Linked DNA regions of Homo sapiens: region 1 is linked to region 2. The links come from fine-mapping of genetic effects on gene expression. A gene starts in region 2. The other region holds a variant in brackets. All regions are shown on one strand. Distances are between the middles of the regions. Region 1 has its middle 33 kb from the start of SCRG1. Region 2 holds the start of SCRG1 (stimulator of chondrogenesis 1).

Evidence for each region. PIP is the estimated chance that this variant, and not a neighbour inherited with it, causes the effect.
Region 1: its variant is the best candidate, but not a certain one, in a credible set for the expression of SCRG1 in spinal cord (GTEx, PIP 0.57).

What each region holds. Positions count from the first base shown.
Region 1 is chr4:173,430,963-173,433,878 of GRCh38, forward strand. It overlaps a transcript of SCRG1 not described here and the pseudogene LOC124900814. Among named protein-coding and RNA genes, the nearest start is that of SCRG1, 33 kb to the left of the region's middle. The variant T/A (reference allele first, on the strand shown) is at 1,555.
Region 2 is chr4:173,398,016-173,400,931 of GRCh38, forward strand. SCRG1 (stimulator of chondrogenesis 1) reads right to left here and starts at 1,101. Exons shown (of 3, transcript NM_007281.4): 1 at 1,053-1,101. The region is part of intron 1 of LOC112268474 (a long non-coding RNA gene); the gene reads left to right.

The DNA of each region.
Region 1 (2,916 bases), 33 kb after region 2:
AGTGGGGACTCCAAAAGGGCAAGATTTGAAAAACTTCCTAAACTACCTAGTGGGTACAATGTTCATGATTTGGATCATGGGTTCAGTAGAAGCCCAAACCCCAGCATGATGCAGTACCACCATGTGACAAACTTGCACGGGTACCACTGGAATCTAAAATAATTTTTAAAAAGAAAAGAAGTATGTTTAAAATTGTTAAAGAGAAAAGGCAAACAGAGTTCTGCTGATGGGCAAAGGGGTACTGCATGTTATTTGGGGGACCACTTCCTGTGGCATAGGCTGGGGTTCAAGCAGGGGAACTGAGCATGGGAGTGGGCAGGGCTCCTGGCCTTTGACTGTGGACCAGCGGGCAAAGGGAAGTTTCAGTCTGTACTCCAGCTGAAAGTGAGTTTGGAAAGCAGACTGATTAATTCCAAAAGGGTAGAAACAGCAAGAACCCAATGAAAGTGAAGCATGACAAACCCAATGAATTTAGAAGGTGGAAGATGTGGTGTGTACTCTAAGGCAAAAATACACAAATATAAGTACCTGTTTATAAGTCACCTTTAGAGAAGTCTGTGATTGGAAGCTTGCTGGGGCAATAGTCAGAGGTATTGCTTTGCCTGTAAAGTGAAGCCAGATCCAATAAAAGAGACTATGCTGGGGCATTAATAGCAAATTTCAATGCCTTGAACCATAGATATTTAACTAGAGTTGGTTTCTCTCATCCCTGCCCCAGGAATGTCTGCCCTTTGTTATGTGAGTATAAGAGGCAAAACTTCCAGGGTCTTCTGTCTGATCATCTTCCCAATGAATGGGACAGAAAGTTTCTTAGCACTAGAATTGGGCCTTGATGTTTTATCATAGTATGAATTAGTGTCATGCCAGGTCTGTAGGTAATACATCACCATGCAAGGAGGTGTGTTGAAGACATGTGATGGTTACTTTCATCTACATTCAACTGTTTGGAACTTTTTGGTACCTGTTTTTTGATAAGGAATGGAATAGTCAATTAAATAAATAAAATCAATTCAAACTGTTTGCTTAAGAAACTTCCAGATTTCCAGATAGGAATCACTTGTCTTCACGGACAAAATCCAACTTAGAGGTAAAAGCCAGATTAGCATAACTTGATGAGGATCCATATAGTGGTTGCACATTGTGATGTTGTCAAATGAAGCATTCTAGTTGAGTAGGAAGAATTTAGAGCCAGTATCATGGGATCTGGAAAATCAGCCAGCAGTAATTTTTCCCTCCCTCCCTCCCTCTTTCTATCTACTTTACAGGTCCTTCTTTCCTTTCTTCCTTCTTTCCTTCCTTCCTTATTCCCTTTCTTTCTTCCTTCCTTCCTTCCTCCCCCCCTCCCTCCCTCCTTCCCTTCCTTCCTTCCTTCCTTCCTCTTTCATGTTTCCTGACATCTATAAAAGGGAGATTCCTCTTCCTCTTCCTCCCCTTACTCCTCCTTCTCCTCCCTCTCCTCCCTTCCTTCTCCTCCTTCTTCCTCCTCTCCTGTCTCTCCCCACTCCCTCCATCCCGGTCATTCCTTTTCTCTCAGTATCTGTCTTTGTGGATAAC[T/A]CTTTCTACCCACTTTCTACCCATTCGCCGGTATCTGCTGAATGCTGGCCTCAGCCCATGTGTCTACATGACCTTCCAGCCCAGCTCCCCAGAGTTTACCGTGTGCCACACTCTAGGTTTCGGTTCTGTCAGGTGCCTCCTCCTGTCTGAGGCAGGCATGGAGGGAGTGGAAACTAGTCATAGTCCTAAAATGTATAGAAAGGGAGAGAGTAGAGTTTCTTTTTACCTTCTTGAGTAGAAATACAGCCACTCTTTGCTCTGCAGGATAATTTTCAAGCTACCCTATATGTTTAAGGCAGCTGGGCATCTCAGAGTGCTGTGTGATTTATTTGTACAGATTCACGTAACACTACCCTGTTCTCTTAGATTTGGTTGAAGCTGGTGGTCTTTGTTATAGCTTGTGGTTCATGATTTATCTGAGGATTACATGAGGAATTTTTTCTCTAATGGTGTGGTAAAGGGCAGAGGAGGATCTCCCTTTTACAGATATCAGAAAGCATGAAAAAAATAGAATTGGATTTAATGCTTTGCAGATATTCTGTTTTTCTTCCCAATTATTTGATTTCACCTATATACATATTCTTTTCTCTTTTTCCTAGCTTTAGAAGCAAACCAACAAAAGCAGTTTGGACTTTAGTAACTTTTTTTTACAGCAGCATTTAGAACAGTTTGCATGTTCTGAGGAATATTATATGTGTGTTGGGGGGAAAGGAATTCACACTGAATAAATTTTAGAAATAATTAAACAAAATAAAGCAAGTTCCTTTACTGCAAGACTTCTCTGATCCTTTAATATACTAATAGACTTTGTGATACTCCAAATTGTAAAGATAGTTCTCCCAAACTTATTTGACCTTCCAAAAAACATAGTCATGAAAACAGAAGCTTTTAAGCTTGTTGTGTTTACCAATGCAAGTTCTGCTGCTCTTCTGACCCAAGAGATTGTCTGATCCTGTGCTGGATTAATCTCAGTGACATAGCCCGCCCTGTACACTCTGCTGTGTGATGCAGGGGCCAAGACTCTGAAAAGTGCATTTCGCTCTGGTCTGTGAGCTTCCTCTTAGGATGCCCTATAGGGACTCTGGACTGCAGGAGGAGGGATGGGGATTTCCCTTCTTTCTGTTTGCTTGCTGTTTCTAGGTGTCACCCTATCAGTGGCCTTTCTCTGGGCAGCACTAGTCATCTTCTGTCTTCAGCTTCTTTCCTTGCTCTTAGAACCTCACTGCAATCTGTCTGAAGGAGCAGTGGACTCCAGCTAGTGCCTCTGTCGGAGGTCAGAGCCCCAGATCCAGGAAACCTGTCCTACAAGCTCCTGATGTATCAGGAATGACTTGGCAGTGGCCCCACCTCAAGACATGGGTC
Region 2 (2,916 bases):
CCACTCATCTCTCTTGGAGGATGAAAATCACTGTTTTTTTAAAGTTCTCTTTTTTTCTTATTAGCTGCCTTAGAAGACGTTTTTGTTAGAATGACTGAGTCCTTAGAAAATGTTTTTGTTAGAATGACTGAGTCCCAAAGTGAAATTTCCCAAAGTATGTGTTAAAGAACAGAAGCAGTATTAAAAAGTGAATAAGCTGCTTAAAGATCCTTAAAACAGACATATCATCTTAAATATCTAAGATACCTTCATCCATAGAAAAACAAAATCCACATCCTCCCTAAAAGTGATCAGGCTTTTAGAGCATGCCAGAAGATGATATTAATATTCAGTCTTGCATCATTCTCCTTCTTTTCCTGGACACAGTAAATCATCATCACTGGAGAAAAGGACCAGCATTTGGGAGAGCTTTTCATAGCCTGTGTAATTAAGTTAAGGAATTTTAAAGAGGAATTTTTCTAAGTCTCAGAGGGAAAAAGTGTTCTCTTTATATTAGCAGTACAGACACTGTTGTGTTCCAAGAATGGACACCAAGGATGAATTCAATGAATTCCCTCTTTGTATCACACATTTGTACCAGGTTCTTTTCAGAAATCAGGATTTTTAAAAGCAAAAAACATTTTCTTTCTTAGATGTTGCAGTTAACTTCATGTAGTGTAGGTAATATAGCTGCTGCATTTAAAACAATCCTATATACTTTATCATCCTCACATAGTTCTGAGGACTGGGATAAGTCCTGTTGTGTGGGACAACATTCAGAGTAAATTTGGGCATTAAATAAATGATAGTGAAGAATCTGCCTCTTTTTAAACCTGTAATGAAATGACTTTCCTAGTCAAGAAATATACATTTTCTGTTCTTTTTTAATCTGATTATTTGCCTTTCTACTAGGAAGCATCATATTTTTCAAAGTGCCTGCATCATCTCCTCAGAGGATCTCTGTCTTTCTCTTCTGACTCAACACATACATACATTTCTGCTCTAATCTACAGTAATACTTTGGAGTAGAACAACTGACATAAGATGTTTTTTATAGAGAAAAAATTACATACCTTTTTCTTCTTTCCTTTTGGTCTTGGCAGAGGATGCTTCTTAAATGCTCACACTCACTGGGTGAGTTTGGGCAAAAGGAGAAGAGAGGAGGTGCTGGAAGGAGCTTCTTTACAAATGAACCTTTGTCTGCCTTGTCTCTGGCCTGGGATCGACAGACTCGCTGCTCCAGCCAGGACTGTGGGGAGGAGGGGAGTGGAAGGAGACAAGGCTGCAAGGACTGCCTCCTTTGGAAGTGTTCAGTTTGTTCCAAACCAGGCGAGAACGAATAGAACAGCTTCTTTACAGAGGGAAATAACTAGTCTATACAAGAACCTCAGGGAGGCAGACTCTGGTAGCAATAAAACATAAAACCTGAGGGATTTTAAAAGAACACAGAGTGATTTTTCCCTTAAGAAAAGTGTGTGTGTGTGTGTGTGTGTGTGTTTGTGTGTCTGTGTGTGAGAGAGAGAGAGAGAGAGAAGAGGAAAGTGGGGAATGGCTAGCTGCGCACCTCTTCCCCTTTCACAGTTTTCCTAGCCATCTAGATCTGTTACAAAATCCTGGTAGAAGATACGTTCCAATTCACCTTCCATTTCTCACCCAAAGACTCATTAGTAGTCAATGGAAAGCTAAAATGATGACTAAAAAGAAATGTATTCTGTGCCTTAGAAATAAAAGCACAAAAGAAATTTTATTCTGTTTTCAGCAAACTATACTGGAATTCTAGCATCTGTTAACTGTTGTTTAGGTTTTTAAAAAATTCGATTAGGAGTAGTGTTTTGGGAATTAGAGATATTATATTGTAATGGAGTTGGAATTATCTAGACAGACAATTGAGGCAAGGGCATTCCAGGTTGAATTACAAAGGCATGAAGGTGAAAAAGAGGGTGACAACTTCGGAGATTATAGGTGGTTTCATTTGGCTAAAACCAAAGGTGGTAGGAGATGAAATTTGAGAGACAAGAAGCAGCAAATTGATGAATTACCTCATATGCCATGCTAAAAAAATTGTTTTTATCGTGAAGATGAATGGAAAGATGATGAAAACATATTAAAAAGGATGAAAAGCCTGACTGCAGTGTGAAAGAAGGATGGTTTCCTGGGAGGAAAGGAGACTAAAGACAGAAAATACCGGCTTTTGCTGTAGTCCAGAAGGGAAGATAGGAAGGAAAACTGAAAAGACCTGATGACCACTTAAGTGTTTATGTTTAGCATAGAGATAGGAAATTTTATTAACTTTCAAAGGCTTGGGCCTTTGGACGATGATACTGTTAATCATCTAGAAAAAGGATATAAAAGGAATAACTGTTATTCATCTAGGAAAAAGAATACAAAAGTTTTGGCTGGAGGAGGAGTGGGAAAATAGAAATGAGTTAGTTGGTGAACGTTGAGTTTAAGGAACCCTAAATACAGTTGAGAATGTTTAGTAGGCAGTTGGTTAAATAGACCTAGAGCTTAGGAAAAAGCCTGGTCTAGAGAATTAGTTCATCAACCAATCAACTCAATATCAAATAATCTCAACTAAATAACTAATGCAGGTATTCAACTAAATGATAGCCGAAGTCATGGTTGTACCACTAAGAAGTTACTGTGCTCTTACTGTGTGCCAGGCATTTCATACGTCTGAACTCGTTCACTCTCCTTCCAACCCTATGAAGTAGGTACTATTATTAGTCCCATTTTATAAACGAGGGGAACATCAGAGATGTCAGGTAACCTGCCCCAAATCACACACACAGCCAGAAAATGGCGAGACCCTGGCAGTGTGTTTCTAGTGTCTTTGTTTCCCACCATTATGCTGTACTGCCCCTTAGAATAGATTATAAAGTTCATGATACGACTGAGAGCAGAATTATTCAAGGAATGGGCAGAGAACTGGGAAGG